2 separate regions of the Homo sapiens genome follow, and region 2 is linked to region 1. The links come from fine-mapping of genetic effects on gene expression. A gene starts in region 1. The other region holds a variant in brackets. All regions are shown on one strand. Distances are between the middles of the regions.

Region 1 (10,338 bases):
AGGGGACTCTCTTCAGAGGGGCAGTGAGTGAGGACAGCACCTGGCCCTTTAGAGGGAAGGAGACACCGTGCTCTTAGAGGGACACAGCCTCAGGGTCAGGCCCTGGTGCTCCGCACTTCCTAAAACAAAGCTGCGGCAGGCCCACCTAGCATCCATCTGTCTGCTCCATCTCCTCTCAGCCGGCCTGACAAGAACCAAACTCACAAAACACCCCGGCCCCAGGAGACAGGCCTGGCCTCACTGCTGTCCCACTCAGCCATGCCGAGCCAGGACAAGGGGCCAGCAGGGCCGCAGCTCTCAGACCATCCCCTTGGTTATTTCGTCTATGTTCTCTGCTCACCCCCAACCACAAATGCCGAGGACTGCAGGACGCCCCCAGGCCTGTTGCCGGGACAGACCGGAGGCAGAGCTAAGAGCAAAGCGTGGGCATGCAGCACATCTGTCTGTGAGTCCACAGCCCACGGAGCCACCGTGCTTGACCCTTGCCTCCTACCCAGCCCCTGGTACCAGCGAGGGCCTGGTCAGCATACCCAGGGCTCTGTCCTGTGGTGTGGGCAGATGGGGGCGGGTGGCACCCTGGACCCGCAGGCTCACACAGCTGCCCCTTTGCACATTTTGCTCCTTGTGGGATTGTCAGGCCAAGGCTCCAGTGACGCATGGCACAGGGAGGGCATCCTCTCAGCCGCTTATAGTAGATTCTTCCTTCTGCCACATGACAGGTTATAGCTACAATACTCAGCACTCCTGCAGGGGCCGGGCACCTCACACAGATGCATCTGTGCCTCATCTCGGTCAGTGCTCACACGGAGGCTAAGGCCGTCCCGCCCCAGAGTCCCACAGCTCCCAGGTACCGACTCTTAGTCCCAGGTCCTCACAGGTGCACTGAGGGCACTCCCTCTGCCCCAGACTCCAGGCCTGGCCAGCAGCCGCCTCTGCAGATCACACCCGAGTCCACTGGGTGCTTTGCAAAATGCTGCAGCTGGTTATCAAGCCACACTCAGAAAGATCCAGCCGGCGACTCCTGAACATCACTGCACCCTCAGCGGGACACTTTTCCAAGTGGCTGGAAAAGTTGTCTCCCACAATACCGGATTAACTTCTGACGAACTCAGTACCTTGGGGGCCTGCGGCAAGGAGGGGGGCGGGGGCATGTTCCACGCCCCATCTTCCCAACACCAGGCTCCGAAGGCCCTGTGAGGAGGCAGCCTGCGAACTGACTCTCAGGGAACAGCCACAGACTGGTGCGAGACGCAGACAGCCAACAGCACGGACACAACAGGGTCCGAGCCTCCAGCCACACGCACAGGTCCTGGCTCCACTGCGAGCTCAATCAGGAGTGGCCAGAAGACTTACAATTTAAACCACCAACAGGTGAATGGCCCAAAGTGACACTTTCTCTTTAAAAGAGCTCTCGGTCAGGCATGGTGGCTCACACCTGTAATCTCAGCACTTTGGGAGGCTGAGATGGGTGGATCACCTGAGGTCAGGAGTTCAAGACCAGCCCGGCCAACATGGCGAAACCCCATCTTTACTAAAAAATTAAAAAAAATTAAAAAAAATAGCCAGGCGTGGTGGCGGGCACCTGTAATCCCAGCTACTTGGCAGGCTGAGCCAGGGAGAATTGCTTGAACCCAGGAGGTGGAGGTTGCAGTGAAGGGAAATCATGCCATTACACACCAGCCTGGGCAACAGAGTGATACTCTGTCTCAAAATAAGTAAATAAATAAATGAGCTCTCAAGCATCTTGGCCGAGCATGGTGGCTCACGCTTGTAATCCCAGCACTTCAGGAGGCAGAGACGGGTGGGTCACTCACGGCCAAGAGTTTGAGACCAGCCTGGCCAACATGGTGAAACGCCATCTCTACTAAAAATACAAACAAACAAACAAATAAGCAAGCCCTCAAGCCTCTCAGATGGCAGGAGCCCAGGAACCAGAGCAGGGAGGCCCGGGCACAGGGGCCCATGATGTCTGTGCCCATGATTTCACAGGAAGGAGAATAGGCAAAGAAAACCCTATGCTCCGCCACCAGCTGGGCACCTCTACAAGGTGGCAGTACCAACAAAAACACAGGAGCAAGGCCATTCTTGGCAAACGCTGACCCAAATGCACCTGGCACCCCATCATGCTTTGCTACCTGTGCATCTCTTCTGCTCCAACAAGGGGGCGGAGCCACAGGGGTCGGGAAGGCCCAAGGCAGACCCGCAAGTTCCAAAACCTTTTACGGCAAGAAGCCTTGCATTCTACCATGATTCATCCAGTTACCTTCTAGCTTCAACCAGATACTGGCTTCGTGATATAAGGGACCTGCTGGCTAGGCACGGTGGCTCATGCCTGTAATCCCAGCACTTTGGGAGGCCAAGGCAGGTGGATCACGAGGTGAGGAGTTCGAGACCAGCCTGTCCAACACAGTGAAACCCTGTCTCTACTAAAAATACAAAAAATTAGCTGGGCGTGGTGGCGGACGCCTGTAATCCCAGCTACTTGGGAGGCTGAAGCAGGAGAATTGCTAGAACCCGGGAGGTAGAGGTTACAGTGGGCTGAGATCGTGCCACTGCACTCCAGCCTGGGCAACAATGCGAGACTCCATCTCAAGAGGAGAAGAGAAAAAAAAAAAAAAAGGAACCTGCCTAGGACAGGAACCCCGTCAGGTCAGTTATACTTTGATGACCGGTCAAGGAAGCAAGAGGAGGATCCTCTGACCAACTGCGTTAACTGCTTTGAAAACCAAGAGACCCGCAGCACGACTTCAGGCATGCCCCCACCTCCCAGGCAGCAACGCTGGGAAGAGTAGGCCCCGGTTCCCCATACCCCGCCCCGGTACCGTGTGTATCCACAGCAAAACATGGCTCTTCCCATCGACAACTGGGCATAGCTGTTGGTTTTGTGCCAATCACCCCACTTGGGAAACCCTGAGCCACCATGCCTCAGGGAAAGTGGTGGCACTTCCTGGTGGCACCAGGAATCGCACAAGGCCATCACTGCCGCCTGGTGCACAGGGCTCCCGCGGCTGGCATCTCCAGAGCCTGGAGGAAGAGGGTAGAGGAAGGTAGCACCGGCTGCAGCAGGCCTGGCTGCTTCGCTCTGCACACCCCCACTTTCACTTTCTGGGTATGACTACTTCGGAGTGTAGGGCAGGCACTGTTTGCAAGTCCCGTCCTTCATTCAAAGCTCACTCACTTCCGAAGCAGGCGCGAGCTGTTGTCAAAGGAAAGTAATTACTCTACTTTCTAAAAACAAAACAAAAATAAAAATGGAGTGACTGCCCACTCGGAGAAAGCTTTTGAAATCCCTCCTCCCCGGATGTCCCAACGGCAGGGCTCAGGCTGGAGCTGCTCCCACAGTCTTTCCAGGCACCCGGTGCCCTGCTGAGGCACCGGGCCTCTGAGGCTACCCGGAAGGTCAGAAAGAAATGCCCCTCGCTCGCCTGCAGCCCGTCCTGTTACAGCGTGTGCCTTATCTTTCATGATCAGTAACCACCAGCACCCATCAAGGCCTCAACAGAGAAAACGGCAAACACAGACCTTTATTTGCAAATGAGAGGCTGCATCAGGGCTGCCAGGGAAGAACCCGGAGGGAGGGCTCCCTAACCCCCGAGGCCAGCCCCTTGCAGGGGTTCAGACCTTCCTTAGACCCCGTTGGAAGCCAGTAACAAACTACTTTCCCCAGAAAAATGCCATACAACTTTGCATAGATTCCAGGATCTCCCCAGGCATACTACATGGACCCAGGAAAAAAAAAAAACCCTCCATTTTAAAGAAAAGAGTAAGGGGAAAAGCCTACAAAAGAGCAGGGTAAAAAGAAAACTCTTTTCCTCTTCTGTTCCTTCTCACAGGGTAGGGCGGGGGAGGACGGGACACACGAAGCTGCCTCTTGCAGTTCCAGCCCAATTACTCTGCCCACCAATGCACTACAGTCTCCCCTCCTGGTTAACTTTTGCAGACAATGACCAAGTTTAATGTAAGGGGGAGAAATCCCAGTATCTATTTCTGAGCAGAAAGCTTTCAACCAAAATTAAAGATCGCAACCACTCAAGGATTGGGTCGAACGGAGGAACCCACACGATGGACGCCGGGTCCCTGCCCCCGGTGGGTCTCGGCGGGCCGAGTTCTCGCCCTCCAGGGAAAGGAGGCCGCGCGAAGCCCCCATCCCGGCCCTGCCCCCGAACGAGCAACCGGTGGAATAAGACTTCCCGCACGCCCCAGCTTTATTCACAGAGAGCCCACCAGGGCCATGTGGGTGTACACGGTTCGGGGTGCGCATTTCTCCCCGGATGGGCTTGTATCACGTTGTCACTCCGGCGCCCCCCAAAAGTGGGAAGGAGGGGAAGCACCCCCGTCCCTCCCGCTCCAACTCGCCCTCGCCCGGATTAAGCGATTTTCAGGCTGATTTCAAAACGGGAACTGGGTCTCCCCCTGGTTTGGGTGCAATAATCCGGCAACTCAGGGGGGCTCAAAGTCAGCTCTGGGCCCGTAACTCTGGGAGGAGGCCGCGCAGAGCCCAGGGCCGAGCCCGGCCTTGCCCCCCGCCCCGGCCGCGGCGCGCGGCGACGGTCCCCAGGCGCGGGCCCCAGCAACGGCTCGGGAGCGAGGCCGGCGGAACAGGCGCGGGGAAAGTGGCCCCGCGGAGCGCACGGCCGCAGGCCGGGGCCGCCGCGCGCACCTTCCCCCTCCGCGTCCTCCCTGGGTTCCCCCTTCGAAAGATGGCGGGCGGAGGAAAGGGGGAAAAAAATCCCTTCCGTGAGGGAGGGCGCGCGGAGGCCGGGCTGGCGCGGGGCGCGCGGGCCGCGCCAACTCCGGGCTGCGCGCCCCGGCCGCAGCGACGCCCCGAGTCCGGGACGGAGGCGGCCAAGCGGGAGCGGGAGGAGGGGAGCGGAGCCCGCGCCACCGCCGCCGCCACCGCCGCCGCGACCCCGGGCGGCCGCCGCGCTTTGTTGCATCGTGGCCGCGCACAAAGGCGGCGGCGGCGGCGGCGGCCCCGGGCGCCCGGTTCACCCGGACGCGCCGGCGGACTGCGCGGGGCGCTCGGGGCCGCGCTCCCCGGCCCAGCCCGGCCCGCCGCCGCCCGCGCCGCCCGCCGCCCCGCGCGCGCAAGGAAGCAAGAGAAAGGCGTACTTGGCCTCGCGGCTCCGGCGGCCGTCCCCTCCCGGCCCGCGCGGCCGGCTCCTCTTTGGCTCGCCGGCCCCGGCAGCATAATAGACGCGCCGGAGCCGAGCAGGGCTCATGCGCTGCGCCGCGGCGCCTGGCGGGAGTCGTAGTCCGCGGCCGGGCCCGCGCCGGGGCCGCCCAGGGGAGGCCGCGGGCGCGCGGACTACATGTCCCGGCCCCGCCGGCGCCGCGCCCCGCCCCGGGGGCCCCCGCCCGCCCCGCCGACCCGGCCGAGAGCGGGCCTGGCCCGGGGGGCGCGCGGGGGCGGGGCTCGGCGCCCGCCCGGCAGGGCAACAACGCTGGGACCCCGTGGGCCGTTCCCCGCCCGGGCCCGCACGGCTCTCCTCACCCCGTGTCGGGGACAGCGCCTGGCGGCGGATTTTCCGGTGCCCCAGGACGGCATGGAAGAAGCGGGCACGCAGCCAGCACCGCAGCCCCCGTCCGGGCACCCCGAGGCCCGCGGGAGCCACCCTCGAACCCCGGCCGCGCACGGGCGGGGCGGCGCGCACCTGCCGGGAGCCCGTGTTTGTAAACAAACCGCGCGCCTAATTAGCCTGGCGGGAGCGCGCGCGCGGGGCGGGGGGCGGGGCGTCGGTGCGCGCGGGCAGGTCGGCCCCGCCCGGGGAGGAGCCGCGCTCTGCCGCGCCCTCCGTGTCACCATCTCCCCCACCCGACTTGCTGGGGCGCGGGCGCCCAAGTTCGCTGTTGCTGGAGAGGGCGCCAAGTCCCCAGAGCTGGCGAAGAGTTAGGGGTGCTCCCAGCTCTGCCTGGGGACCTTCTCGCCCCAAGCCCCGGTTTCCCCATCTGCCCAGTGAGGGGCGGGAACTAGATACCAGGTTCCCAGCCTGAGATTCCGGGAGAGGGCCACCCCTGGCCCTTTTTCTGTATCTTGAAAGGTTCAGCCCGTGGACACGTTTTGCATCTTGTTTTGGGTGATGACGACTCGGGTTTACACATAAATCAAGTTGTGGGGGGGGGGGTTTTGTTGTTTTTTTGGTTTTTGTTTTTTTTTTTTTTTTTTGAGACGTTAGTTTCGCTCTTGTCACCCAGGCTGGAGTGCTGTAGTGTAGTGAGTGGCTCGATCTCGGCTCACTGCAACGTCCGCCTCCCGGGTTCAAGCCATTCTCCTGGCTCAGCCTCCCGAGTAGCTGAGATTACAGGCACCCGCCACCACGCCCGGCTAATTTTTGTATTTTTTAGTAGAGATGGGGTTTCACCGTGTTGACTGGGCTGTTCTCAAACTCCTGACGTGAGATGATCCGCCCACCGCGGACTCCCAAAGTGCTGGGATTACAAGCGTGAGCCAACGCACCCGGCCACATAAATCAATTTTAATCCAGCTGTAACTTAAGGTGGTTACACGTTGTGTACATTAGACCCCAATAAAAACGTCAAAAACAAAACGAGGTTCCTTGGTGCCTGCTGAACCTGCCAACTGCAAGGTCGAGTTTCCTTGTGTGGGCTGCACCCACCCCAAGCCCCTGGGGTCCCCAGGTGTGTTCCAAGTTGAGCAGCAGCTCCACTGCCTGAAATGCACACATCTATGCAATATTCACAAAGTGAGTGCCAGCACAGAGACAATTCATCCCCATGCTCACCCAGAAGGCAGGTGTTCTGTTCCAGGCTGACAGGTAAGGAAACAGGCTCAGTGAGGCAAAGGGTCCTGCCCAAGGTCACAGAGCCAATTTGCAGGACGGCTGAGACCCAAAGCCCCGGGGTCTTAGGAAGAGTTTGCAGGGGAAGCCAACACCTTTCCCAATCCTGTCCCTCTGTTTCTGCTGGGAGCCCAGGACCTTCTCACACTCCAGGGCAAGGCTCTAGGACGAGGTTCCAGCCTTGCCTTTCTAGTTGGCAAAATGGACAAAGTGCAGTCCTCAGGCGCAGGAAGGTCGGGGAGGGGGAATATGAGAGGTGAGGATCTGCAGGCAGTTCCCTTAGAACTACCATCCTGGTTGTGTCCCCAAACCCCCGGTGCAGTTCCTCAACCTACAGGCTTCTGTGTTAGCCACCTTGGAGGCTGCAACCCATTCCTGCTGTCTGCATCTCATCTCCTTGGGTATCTTGAGCACTCTGACCACCAGGATGGCCACCTCACCACTTACACAGACCCCACTGCACTCCTCCCAAGGCTAGAACAAAAAGCCTTTCCGCCTGGTCTTGACCTCAAGGAACCCAGGTACATGCACACAGCAGGCTGCCCTGACCAGCCAGCGTGTCTGAGGCTGCTGACCAAATGCCCCCAACCCTTATGGGCCTCCCACTGCCCTAAGGTGACCCCCAGGAGTATGGCAGGAACCCAGGCGCTCCCTGGGCACTGGCTCTGATGGAAGCACCAAGGTCCCCTTCTTTCCCTTCCCGCTGCTCACCCACACATGAGTGGCCCGGATGGCTCCATGGAGCCAACTTTCCCGAGGCTGGAGAAGTCTCTAGGAAGCAGAATCTGTAAGGGAACAGGACAGAAACTCTCATTTGAGCATCTCAGCCCCTGTGCTACTATCTCTGAAGACTAGTTTAGGGGCCACAGTGGCAAACAGCTGAAAGCCAGCAGGGCTGCCATTGAGAAGGGATTTGGGGTGGCTCTGCAGTCCCCTCCAGCCCCTAGCAGCCCATCATCCTCTCCCTTCCTGCTCAGGCTCTTGGAATTTTAACCTCTGGTACTGCTGAATTTCCCAAGTGAAGCCACTTAATCTCCCCGACCCAGGTTTCCTCCCCTGTCACAGGAGGATAAAAATAGAACCTGATCCCGCAGCTCTGGTAAGGGAGGGGGGCATGTGCAAAGGTTGGGGCTGTGATCAGGAGCAGGCTGCTGCCTTTGCCTCCTTGGCCATCACTCACCTCTCTACCTTCACGTTTTACTTCCTGAGCCTCCTTGTGGGCTGTCTCACGGCTCCATGAGAGCAGAGCACTTTGTCCATGAGGTATCCCTAAACATCCTTCAACAGTATCTGGCACCTAGTGGGTGCTCAATACATAGTTGTTGAATGAATAAATGTTCTCTTCTGCACCTCTGTCCTGCCCTCCAGCCTCCATCTGCAAACCTCAGTGTAGCCCAAGCTCTACCAGTGAAGCAGCCACCTGCTCACATCTAAAGGAGGACCCAGAGCCAGGCTCCAGCCAGTACAGGAGCCAGGGCCTCAGCTGCCTCCTCCTCCTTCACCCACAATGCCCCTTAAGGCAGCAGTCCCCAGCCTTTTTGGCAACAGGGACCAGTTTCATGGAAGACAATTTTTCCACGGATGAGTGGGGGCAGATAATGGTTTTGGCATGAAACTGTTCCGCCTCAGATCATCAGGCATTAGATTCTCATAAGGAGCTCACAACCTAGATCCCTCACGTGCGCAGTTCAGAGTACGGTTTGCGCTCCTGTGAGAATCTGATGCAGCTGCTGATCTGACAGGAGCCGGAGCGCAGGCGGGAATGCTGGCTCACAAGTACTCACCTCCTGCTGTGTGGCCCCGTTCCTAACAGGCCACGGACCAGTAACAGTCCAAGGCCCAGGGGTTGGGAATCCTGCCTTAAGGCGCAGAGCAGTTACATCATGGCACTGAAGTTTATACATCAGTTTCTTGAAAGTTTCATTATCATGTGTCTTTCCCCAGGACTGACCAGCTCTCAGCACAACTTTTTAAGAAAATGAATTTCTGTCTCCACCAAGCAGAGGCTGGGCTACAGAGAACTCTGGAGGGTGGAGGAGCAGAGGTTTTTAATTATACAATAATTTAGTGCCTACTATGTGCCAGGCCCTGTGTCAAGAGCCTTATGTACACCATTTTACTGAATCCTGGAACAGTTCTATGACGTAGGGATGATTATGTCTACTTTACAGGTGAAAATGGAGGCAAAGTTAGGTTAAATTACTAGCCTGAGCCATGAACCCAAATGTGGGTTCATATTTCATTTACAAAATATATTCCAGAAGACTGCACCTTGGTAGGGGAAGGTGAGGCATTTAACTTGAGGAAGCAAATGCCCAGATCTAAGTTCATTAAACTTCTCTTAGAAAAGGGTGGGAGGCCGGGCACCGTGGTCCATACCTGTAATCCCAGCACTTTGGGAGGCCAAGGTGGGCGGATCACCTGAGGTTGGGAGTTCGAGACCAGCCTGACCAACATGGAGAAACCCTGTCTTTACTAAAAATACAAAATTAGCCAGGCGTGGTGGCTCATGTCTGTAATCCCAGCTACTCAGGAGGCTGAGGCAGGAGATTTGCTTGAACCCGGGAGGCAGAGGTTGCGGTGAGCCAAGATCGTGCCATTGCACTCCAGCCTGGGCAACAAGAGCGAAACTCTGTCTCAAAAAAATAAAAAGAAAAGGGTGAGGAGCCCCATGGAAAGGAGGGAACTTGGAGTTGAGTCTTCTCACTTTCCTGTTCTTCCTGTCCCCAACATGGAAAATTGTTTGCACAAAAATCATAGCAAAATCCTTAAAGGCATAGAGTGGAAAGGTCTCTGGTATAACCTAGGAGCCCCGGTGAACAGGGAGAGAGAGCTGTGCTGCAGCTGCATAAATGTGCTTGCAGAAAGACAGTCAAAAGGAGGCAGGCAGGACAAGAAGACAGGTGGGCCGGGCTCAGGGGCTCACACCTGCAGTCCCACAGTTTGGGAGGCTGAGGTGGGGGATCGCTTGAGCCCAGTAGTTGGAGGCCAATCTGGGCAACAAAGTGAGTGCCAGTATCTACGAAAAATCAAAAATGTAGCTGGGTGTGGTGGTGCACACCTGTGGTCCCAGCTACACAGGAGGCTGAGGCAGGAGAGTCGCTGGAGCCCAAGGAGGTTGAGGCTGCAGGGAACTGTGTTTGTGCCACTGCACTCCAACGCATGGGCGGCAGAGTGAAACCCCTGTCTGAAAAAAAAGGACAGAACAGGTGACCCCCACTGAGTCTTAGTCTTCACATCTGTAAGATGGGTACAATAAATACTTACCTCTGCTGGGCGCAGTGGCTCACGCCTGTAATCCCAGCTCTTTGGGAGGCTGAGGCAGACAGATCACAAGGTCAGGAATTCGAGACCAGCCTAGCCAACATGGTGAAACCCCATATCTACTAAAAATACAAAATTTAGCCAGACATGGTGGTACACACCTATAATCCCAGTTACTCGGGAGGCTGAGTCAGGAGAATTGCTTGAACCCAGGAGGTGGAGGTTGCAGTGAGCTAAGATCACGCCACTGCACTCCAACCTGGGTGACAGAGCA
Region 2 (10,338 bases), 40 kb before region 1:
ATTTTGTCCTATATCGTTGCTGGGGCTGTGTGCTACCTGCACTGGGTCCATCTTGTCCCTTGGTGGGATCCCTATGGCCAAGAGACTTAGAGCCAAAAGACTGAAAGACAGCTAATTAAATGTTTTAGGACAGATAGGAAAGGAGATGGGCAGGCACTCATTCACCCTTAAAAACCTTTTGTGCAGCCAGGTGCGGTGGCTTATGCCTGTAATCCTAGCACTTTGGGAGTCTGAGGCGGGTGGATCACGAGGTCAGGAGTTTGAGACCAGCCTGATCAACATAGTGAAACCCTGTCTCCACTAAAAATACAAAATGAGCCAGGCATGGTGGCACATGCCTGTAACCCTAGCTACTCGGGAGGCTGAGGCAGGAGAATCACTTGAACCTGGGAGGCGGAGGTTGCAGTGAGCTGAGATTGCACCATTGTACTCCGGTCTGGGCGACAGAGCGAGATTCCATCTCAAAAAAATCAAAATAAAACAAACAACAACAACAACAAAAAACAACCTTTTGTGCAACATAAGAGGCAAAAACCAAAATCCAAAACGTGAGGTTACAAAATTGACTTATCTCTAAGTTTTATGTATTGAGCTATCAGCTATTTAGGTATTTGTGAACCATCTTTGATTCAGAGGGTCTGAACAAATTTTATCCCTCGAAACCAGCCCTTACAATCTCATGCGTTTACCTCTTCTGCAATTGTCCCTGGGCCTAGAGGGAGGGTGTTTGATATCAAATCAGATTGGAGCCAATGGGATTTTAAATCATTTTCAGATTCTGGAGATATCAGGTAGAAAAAGAGAGGTAATCTTCATTTTTTACTTAATTGTTGTAGCTATAAAATAGCTTAAAAGGAAAAACAGCTTTTTGACTCTGGAAAACAAAACATAAGTAAATGTTTCGAACAGAAATATAAGTCCTATTTGGTTTTGACAACGACAGGAAAAGGAAGCTTACAGGTAACTAAATATTCAAATTATTTAGTTCAAGGCATAGAACAAATTATATTAGCTTAGAGGCAATTTTTTTTTTTTTTTTTTGAGATGGGGTCTCACTCTGTCACCCAAGCTGGAGTGCAATGGTGCAATCTCAGCTCACTGCAACCTCCGCCTCCTGGGTTCAAGAGATTCTCCTGCCTCAGCCTCCTGAGTAGCTGGGATTACAGGCGCCTGCCACCACACTGGGCTAATTTTTTATATTTTTGGTAGAGACAGGGTTTCATCATGTTGGCTAGGCTGGTCTCGAACTCCTGACCTCAAGTGATGTGACCGCCTAGGCCTCCCAAAGTGCTGGGATTACAGGCGTGAAAACCGCACCCAGCCAGATAGAGGTAAAAGTGTTAAATGGGTCTTTGAATACAGGCCTGTTCTTGTGTCTCTTGAAAGCAGTATAACTTCGGTTGCTGTCTTTTCCCAGGTCGGAAGACTGGGAGATCATGTAAGATTTAAACGTTTTCAAATTTGTTGAAACTGATTTATGGTCCAGCATGTGATCAGTTTTGCTAAACGTCCTGTGTAGGTACTTGTGAAGAAAGTGCGAGGCAGGCGGATCACAAGGTCAGGAGTTCGAGACCAGCCTGGCCAATATGGTGAAACCCTGTCTCTACTAAAAATACAAAAATTAGCTGGGCGTGGTTGCCGGCGCCTGTAGTCCCAGCTACTCAGGAGGCTGAGGCAGGAGAATCGCTTGAACCTGGGGGGCGGAGGTTGCAGTGAGCTGAGATCGTGCCACCACACTCCACCCTGGGTGACAGAGTGAGATTCCCTTTCAAAAAAAAAAAAAAAAAGAATGTGCGTTCCACAGCTGTGGGCTTAGTGCTCACACTAAGCATCTTCCTTGGATGTCTGTTATGCTTATTTTCTTTTTTTTTAGAGATGGGGTTTTGCTGTTTCGTCCCAGCTGAAGTGCAGTGGCATGATTATGGCTCACTGCAGCCTCGAACTCCTGGCTCAAGGGATCCTCCTGCCTCAGCCTCCCAAGTAGGTGGGACTCAGAGGTGAGCCACCACACCAGGTTCCATTATGCTAGTTTTCTTAATTGGCATTGGAGAAAACCATAAAATTAGGGGAAAAGGGTAGATACTAAAAGAGTGCTATTGGAGTATGATTGGAGGTGGAGTGAGAAAAGGAAATAGACCTTGCTTTCATGGGGCTGTTGAGGAGTCCAAATGAGCAGTATAGAGGCCTGGCTTGGTTGGATGAGATGGAGAAATTCAAGACCTATTTTTGAGATAGTAAGCCCGGACATTTAATTAATTAAAAATAATTGTATCAATTACTGAGAGTAAGAATACTAATAAAAGCAGTAACAGCAGTGGCAAAAGTAACCACACAAGCAGAAATACGAAAACCAAGATGATAAGACCATACAGTCCGGCAGTGTCTTACTAACAGGGTTGTGGGCGTCCCACTCCTTCTCTTCATCCTCCTCCAGCTCCTCCTCCACGTCTTCCTCCAGCTCCTGCTCCTCTTTCTTTTCCAGTACCTCCTCAGCCCCTTCTCCTCTGCCAGCCCCTCCTCCCACCTCCGCTCCCAGCCCCTCCTCCTTTCCCAGCCCCTCACCATCCAGCCCCTCCTCCTCCATCTCCTCCTCCTCTCTCAGCTCCTCCTCCTCCCCCAGCTCCTCCTCCTGCTCCTCCTTCTCCTCCACTCCTCCTTCTGCTCCTCCTTCTCGTTCAGCTCCTCCTCTCCCAGCCCCTCCTCCTCCTCCAGCCCCTCCTCCTCATCCAGCCCTTTCTCCTCTCCCAGCCCCTCCTCTCCCAGCTCCTCCTCCTCCTCCCTCCTCCTCCTCCAGCCCCTCCTCCTCCAGCCCCTCCTCCTCCAGCCCCTCCTCCTCCTCTTCCAGTTCCTATTCGGGGCGGGCCCAGCCCCTCCTCGCGGAGCGATCGATGGCTTGGGCTCGTCGCACACGCCTGCCCAGCCTCTGCGCTCGGCTCGCCAGGCCTGCGGCGCTGCCATGGAGACACGGCCCAGCGGCCGCCGGCCCCGCCCTGGGAGCCCCGCAGTGCGTCGCGCCGCTGCCCGCATCTCCGAGGCCCGCGACGAGCGGTGACTGGGGCGGGCGACGTGGGGGACCCGGGGATGCGGGCAGACGATAGGGGGCTGGAGGATGGGGCGACCCAGAGCGCGCGGGGTCTGGGGCGCGGGGATGGGGGCCGCGGGCCACGCGACGGGGACCCCAGGGTGCGCGCAGGTGGCGGGGACGCGCGATGGGGGCCCGGGAAGCTGAGGCTGACCTAGCGCAGGCATCCCAGGAGGGGAGGTCCCTGACGCTGCGCAGCTGGGAAGGCGTTCGGGAGTGGGTTGCGATGCTTCCCTGTTTGTTTTCTCCTGACATCGTTTTTGTTTGGGTCCAGGGGCCTCACGGGAGCTGGATGCTCGGAGCAGCAAGGCGGCCCTGGGGGCCCCTTCCGGTCCCGGGGCTGACGCCTGGCGGCGTCTCCGGGAACCCGCGCCCTTTCAAGCGCCGCTGGCTCCTGTTTCACAGATGGAGACCCTGAAGCCCCAACAAGCAGCCTCCCCAGCACCTCCCAGTGACTGAAAAAGCTGGCACTGGGCGCCCGTCTCACTCTCCACCCAGCTCCCAGGCTGCCCCACGGGACGTAAGTAGCTCGATCTAGGCCGCTGACCCCCAGAGACTTGATGCTGCGCTGCAGACTGCCGCCGCTGCCGGGGCGCTTGACTTCCCCTCTCCTGACAGCACGTTCGTTCCTTTGCAGCAGCACCTTTGGGGAGAGACGAGACCTGAACAAACGCTGGGGCTGGATCCCCAGGGTGGGTCAGAACAGCCGTTGCCCTGAAAGCTGGCCCGGACAGATGCGTGCGGGGCGTGCCACCGGAGCTCCTTCCAGCTTGCGTCTGGGGCCACCATGTCCCTTCCTCAGGGCACTGGATCCATCTCTTCAAGCTCAGTGGTCCAGGCCATGGTGGCAGAATCACCCCCCAGGGTGTGACGCCTCGTCCCTGTCAATTCCACACAGCTGCACCCGGAAGAGCTGTGGCCGGGCGCCGCTCTGACCTGTGTGCGGTCCCCTGAATGGGTCTCAGGTGTCTTCAGAATGGTGAGGCCGCCTCATTTCCTCACCACACAACCCTCCTGAGGACGTTGCCTGCAAATGGGCGGAATTCCTAATTTCTACCATTCAGTTAAACGAGGGATCCTTAAGCCCCAAAGCTGGGAAAGCTGTCCGTTAATTTAGTGCGCGTGGGCCGTCTCAGAACAGCAGGGTTCCCAGGAGTCCAGCGGGACGGGGGAGGGGATGAGTGGCCGTGTCCCCCTGGCAGAGAAGGCCTTGTCTGAAGGCTACGCCCGCCTCCGGTACAGGGACACCTCCTTGCTCATCTGGCAGCAGCAACAGCAGAAGTTGGAGTCGGTGCCACCTGGGACGTACCTGAGCAGGAGCCGAAGCATGTGGTACTCACAGTATGGAAATGAGGCCATCTTGGTCCGAGACAAAAACAAGCTCGAGGTCTCTAGGGACACAGGGCAGTCCAAGTTTTGCACAATTATGTAATTCCGATGTGAGCACCTGAACCCAGGACCACACTTTGAGGAAAACAGACCTGAGTTTCATTCAGTTGTCTTGTTGATTTCCAATCCTTGCTGGAAGATTTTGAATAATGAACGTGAAGATCAAACTGTGGTGTAAGAACCCAAGAAGCGCAGAATTGGCCCCCGAACCCCTCAGCACAGCCGCGGTGTGACTGGTGCACAGGACACTTCCCCTCTAGAGTCCCCTCCGTGGTCAGCTGTTGTGACATTTGAATTCTCCAGGTGCTGCTAGGGACAGCATAGGCCCGGGCACTGCTAGATGCTTGGTTTAAACCAGGCCAAGAGTAACCCTCCCATCCCCATTACAAACCACCTTTTCAAGTTTTTTAGGTTTTAGTTTTTTGTTTTTAGCATAAATGGCGGAGTAGCAGCAGCATCTCACCAGGAGCTTTGTCGCATTACATTTTGTATTTTGCTTTTTTGAGACGGGGTCTCACTCTGTTACCCAGGCTGGAATACAGTGGCACAATCACAGCTCACTG[T/C]AGGCTCTATCTCCTGGGCTCAGGTGATCCTCCCAAACTCAGCCTCCCAGGTAGCTGTGGCTCCAGGCGAACTACTGTATATAGAGACAGGGTTTCCCTATGTTGCCCAGGCTGGTCTGGTCTTATAGTCCTGGGCTCAAGCCTCCCAGAGTGCTGGGATTACAGGCATGGGTCACCGCACCAAGCCCGCATTTATATTTTGAGTTACCAAAATGATCATCATCTGTGAAGCATCATGGTAGCTTCCAAGCATTTGCGGCCCACTGGCCAGTGCATCCAAAACACATTCAGGAAACCCGAGAGTTGTAAGTTGCACATGTGTGGCCTACAGTGACTTCCATGTAGTAACAGGGCTGAGCAAGGCAGGCTCTCCACCAGACTTAAAGCATTCAACCACTCTGCCCCCAGGCCGACACTGACATGTGTTCACTGTCGCTGCCACAGCTGGCCACCTGTGTTCAGTCTCCATGAAGGATTCACCTTCTGCTCTCACTGACATCTCCTTGGCTACACAAATGTGCAGGTGTCTCTTGTCAAAGCTAATTTTTCTTTTCTAAATAAACATCCTTTAATACACTCCTCCCCTTCCTCACACTTATTTTTATCCTTGTTCGTAATATCCTACTTGGCTTCCCATTTTTTATAGCAGTAATATGTAATTGATTGCTAAAGACTGCAATACACAAAGGCATAAAGCAAAGCACAAGTGCTCTCCGTGGGGAGAACCCGGCCGGCAGCTGGGGATGCGTCCCACAGCTCCTCAGCATGCACACACGGTCACGTGATTCTGACGGCCTCATCCTGCACCATGCCTCTTGTATCCGCCATTTTCTTTCTTGCTCAACTGTACAGACTGGGCATTCACTTAATGCTTTTCTTTTTTTTTAAGAGAGTCTCACTCTGTTGCCCAGGCTGGAGTGCAATGGCACAATCTCAGCTCACTGCAACCTCTGCCTCCTGGGTTCAGGCGATTCTCCTGCCTCAGCCTCCTGAGTAGCTGGAATTACAGGTGCCTGCCACCACGCCTGGCTAATTTTTCTATTTTTAATAGAGACAAGGTTTCACCATGTTGGCCAGGCTGGTCTCGAACTGCCAATCTCAGGTGATCTGCCCACCTCGGCCTCCCAAAGTACTGGGATTACAGGCGTGAGCCACCGCACCCGGCCCACTTCATGCTTTTAACCTCTGACTCGCAGCTCTCCCGTGAGCCCACAGACGGGCACAGTGACAGCATCCAGGTTGTCATCTGTGCAAACAGCATGTTCTGAATGTGCCTGTACTCTGTTCGTGCTTCTCTTTGCAGCTGTGCAAGTTCATTCGCAAACGTCCTAGAAGTGGAACTGCTGGGTCAAAGTGCATTCCCCAAATGTCCTGCCAGAGGCCTGGTCGGCAGCAGCCTCCTGCACAGCCCGAGTCCCTTCTGCGAGAGTCCTGGCTTGTTTGCAGCCTGCAGCTGGGAGATTTGAAGTCAGACTTCCAGGATTGCCGCATGGAGCTGCAGAGGGAGTGAGCATGGGGCTGGAGGACCTGCCCCGCCGGCTGACACTCCCACAGCAAGGCGGGCCCGCCAAGGAAGCACTCCACATCCGCTAGGTAGGGTTTGTCTGCATCTTTTCAGTTCTTCAGTTTAAGTCCTGCCTGGGAAGAAAGCAAACTCCAGAGGCAAATCTGGAATGCCTGTGTGCCACCTTCTCACCGCACCACAGACTCCCCTGAGGACGGGTTGTGGCGGGGTTGGCCCCAAGCATGGGAGGCAGCGCAGACATGCAGAATGGGGTCTGAGGTCACGTTGCAACGCTGGCAGGATGTGTGCTCAAGGGCCAGTCTCTGCAGGGGTCAGGGCGTGTGGGCCACGCACAAGGAGCTGGCACTAAGCCGCTTAGGCTGCAGGAAGACACCATCTGCCTGGGGCGGACAAGGCCCCATGTCCGTCCTCAAGGAGGCTGGTCTGGATGAGAAGGGTCACAGTCTGGCCAGGAGTGTCACCGTGCCCCCTGACCCCATCTGGGGTCGGGCTGGACAGGTCCTCAGGCCTAGACGTGGGCCCAGCCAGAACCTTCTCCCCTGGCATGTCTCTTCCAGGCCTAGTTCCAGAGCTGTCATTCTTCGGCGAGCCGCGCTGCACGCCAGCCTCCAGTCTGGCAGTTAAACCTCACTATGAAAATCTGCTTTTGGGATTTTATTTGCATTTCCATTAGACTGAGCGCATCACAAGCCACTTCAGGATAGACTGAGGTGCAGAGGGAGGGGACAAGCGGCCAGGTTGACTAGAAGAGCACAGAACCTGGCTGTCTCGAAGAGGGCAGCTTGTTCCAGGGAACCAATGAACTGTCAGTAAAGGGGATTGTGGCTTCCTAGTGAGGCAAGAAATGATGCTCCCTTCATCCTGCCAGGGCTCAGGACAAGAGCTACTTAATGGTTTGATTATTATTATTTTTTAAGAGATGTTGTCCAGGCTGGAGTGCAGTGATGCAATCATGGCTTACTGCAGCCTCAAACTCCTGGCCTCAGGCCATCCTCCTGCCTCAGCCTCCCAAAGTGCTGTGATCACAGGCACGAGCCACTGCATCCTGCCTTTAAATGGTTTTTTGGGGCCCCTTTTGGATGCTCTGGGTGTTTTTGCCAAGAGTTACAGGATGTCAAGTGTGGGGAGCTCAGCACCCTTGCTGTGGACCAGTGAAGGCTGTTCCAGACCAGGTGCTTCCAGACATTTCCAGGCTCCAGGAGAGAGGCTGGGAGCCCCCACAGAAAGCACAGGAAAATGCAAAAAAAAAAAACAGTCTTTTTTTTTTTTTTTTTTTTTGCTTTTTATTATGAAAACAAAACAAATGCCCCAGGAGAAGGGTCCATGATTACCAGAAACATCAAAGAGTACTTTCTACCATTTTTATTCTGTTGTGTTGAGGCCAGCATTGCAATAAACAAGCTAAACTACTTACATTGGACTCATTTTCAGTAACTGACATTTACAGGAATATACTAGAAACGGCACTAAAAAGTTTAAGAAAAGTTACGGTAAACTTGCATGCACATCATACAGAAAAGTAACATTTTAAATATAAAAAAGAAAAACTTCCTGGAAGCATTATGCCAGTATTAAGGAACAGTGCTACTCTGGATGTGACAAATTCTGTATGTGGGTGTTACTCTTTCCCAAAAGACTGTCAGAGGCGTGAGTGCTGCAAAAGAACAACAACAAAAACAAACACACAAAAAAATGTGTCTTACAGTTTGTAAGCAAGATGACACTGCCCAACACAAAGAGGGGTCTGGAGTTCAGTTCACGCCCGAAGCCTGCCCCCTCGGCCTCCAGGGGTCATTCAGAGTGTTCTCAAATCCAATTCCGACACACGACTTGTCACTACTCCTCTCCCCTTGAAAAAAGCATGTTAGAAGCTGCCCTACAGGTCTCAGCAGTGGGACAATCTAATTGAATCACCGCAGCCTTCTAATACAGAAGAAACGGACGTGACTGTCACCCTCAGCCCGCCAGCAAGGGCGCTGAGGAAGTCATTAATCCTTCGAAACTCTGAAAAGAAACCAGTGTTGAAGTCTGGACAGAAAGCCTTAAAAAAGTGACAGCACCAATGCAGCTGCTCAGTGTACCCGCCGTGGGCTGTCAGGGTCAGTGGCTTCTTTCTAGATGAAAGGAGCAGAGGCGAGCCGACGCCACCGTCACAGAGAACCAGCCGAGAAGGAAAGGCCCCACGATGCTCCTGCTGCGCTGCCCCCACAGCCGGCCGCTCCCCCGACGGCTCACACAGGCAGCACCTCACTGCCCTGTGGCTGGAGGGGCATTGCAAGGAGCGCCCCCCAGCCCCAGGCACCCCCGGCTTAGGGTGTACGTATCACCCAGCCCTGTGCTGGCAGCACGTTACCAACCAGCCTGCGTGAAGACCTGTCAACTGTCGTGTGTGAATTCCTTAAATTCGGTTTAAATAGTCCATTAAAGATCTGTTTAGAAAATACCTTTGAAAACGAGGGTAACTTTAAAAAATGGAAACTTTCAAATCCATTTATATTTTTATTATAAACAAAACTTAATTAAAAGTTTAACAAACTGGCTGAAAACTCACCAAGTGTCAGACTCACCAGCAATTTAAAAAATGATAATTTACCAGCATCTCCTCATCAGAGTTCCCTCTCCAGTAAGGGTATACCTACATCTGTAAGGGTCAGTGGACTCTGAATCAATTTTATGGTTGTTTTAAAATCACCGTGTATTAGGATACTAATGATAGTCCCTATATCCATCCAGAAATGCTGGCAGAAAGCACTGGCCACCATACAGGACAGACCACACCACAGCTCCATACCCAGCGTCTGCCTGGAGGCTCCCCCACGCTGAGGTCCGGGAGAATGCCTGGTTTCAGTCATTTCCGGACTAACTGTGACAACGCGTGAGCAGGGAGCACCGTGCGAGTCTCCGGGAGGGAATCCTCCTGGGGCCCAGAGACTCCTCCACCCCTGGGGAGGGCAGACAGGCTCGGGAGGGCCTGGCCAGGCCACTGGAGGCTGGCAGGGAGCAGGCATGTCCACCCGCAAGCCTGGGAGGCTAACTCTGGCATTCCTGGCCGGAGCCGCCATGCTCATTGGTGGGCCAGTTTGGGACATCCCCGTACTCAAAGACCATATGGCAGCCTCTGGGAAAACAAAACCAAAACATCACCTTCTATTAAACTCTGTATATTATTATTTTTTACAATAGAAAGTTAAAAATCAAGACTTAGATTTACTATACATTTTTTCTCTCAGATTACAAAGTTTATATTATATAACTGGGGTTCCCTAAATTGATTTCTTTTAAAACAGTCTTAAAGAGACCAGAAGTGAATACAAAAGAACTAAACAAAATAAAAAATTAGAATGTGCTGTAGCTGAAAGCTGTCTATACCTGTAAGCCTCCAAGTTTCATACAAAAAAAAAAAAAAAAAAAAACCACAAAGAAAAAAACCAAAAAACCCAACAAACCCAGGGGCGAGCGCGCGAACAGACGTGGGTGAGCACCGCGCGGTGGCAGGAGTTAGCACCTGGAGACGACAGGCCGCCGCCAGACAGGACCCGCGCCCGGCACACCACTGGCAAGGCCTGCATCTCTGCGACTGTGTGAATGCATTTCTTCTGCGGTTTTTTCTTATTTTCTTTTTTTTAAAAATGACCAATGATGTTAATAAATAACTATTTATATACACATAAGCTCGGGAAGTGGTTCCCAAGGGTGGCGCGGCAGCAGCAGCAGGGGCAGCGCTAGCCAGGCGGGGACTCACAGCGGGCTGGACTTCCGTAGAAAATTGCCGAACCTTA

What was found. PIP is the estimated chance that this variant, and not a neighbour inherited with it, causes the effect.
Region 2: its variant is fine-mapped to the expression of BRD3 in whole blood (TOPMed, PIP above 0.99).

What each region holds. Positions count from the first base shown.
Region 1 is chr9:134,062,833-134,073,170 of GRCh38, forward strand. It overlaps BRD3 (bromodomain containing 3), which reads right to left and starts at 5,194. Exons shown (of 12, transcript NM_007371.4): 1 at 5,113-5,194. RefSeq lists an enhancer at 1-668 and silencers at 4,640-4,889, 5,070-5,799.
Region 2 is chr9:134,022,489-134,032,826 of GRCh38, forward strand. It overlaps BRD3OS (BRD3 opposite strand), which reads left to right and starts at 2,993. Exons shown (of 3, transcript NM_001355256.2): 1 at 2,993-3,048; 2 at 3,357-3,602; 3 at 3,720-9,099. The coding sequence starts at 4,260. The coding sequence ends at 4,514. BRD3 (bromodomain containing 3) reads right to left here. Exons shown (of 12, transcript NM_007371.4): 12 at 7,817-10,338. RefSeq lists silencers at 2,427-2,556, 2,867-3,286. The variant T/C (reference allele first, on the strand shown) is at 5,035.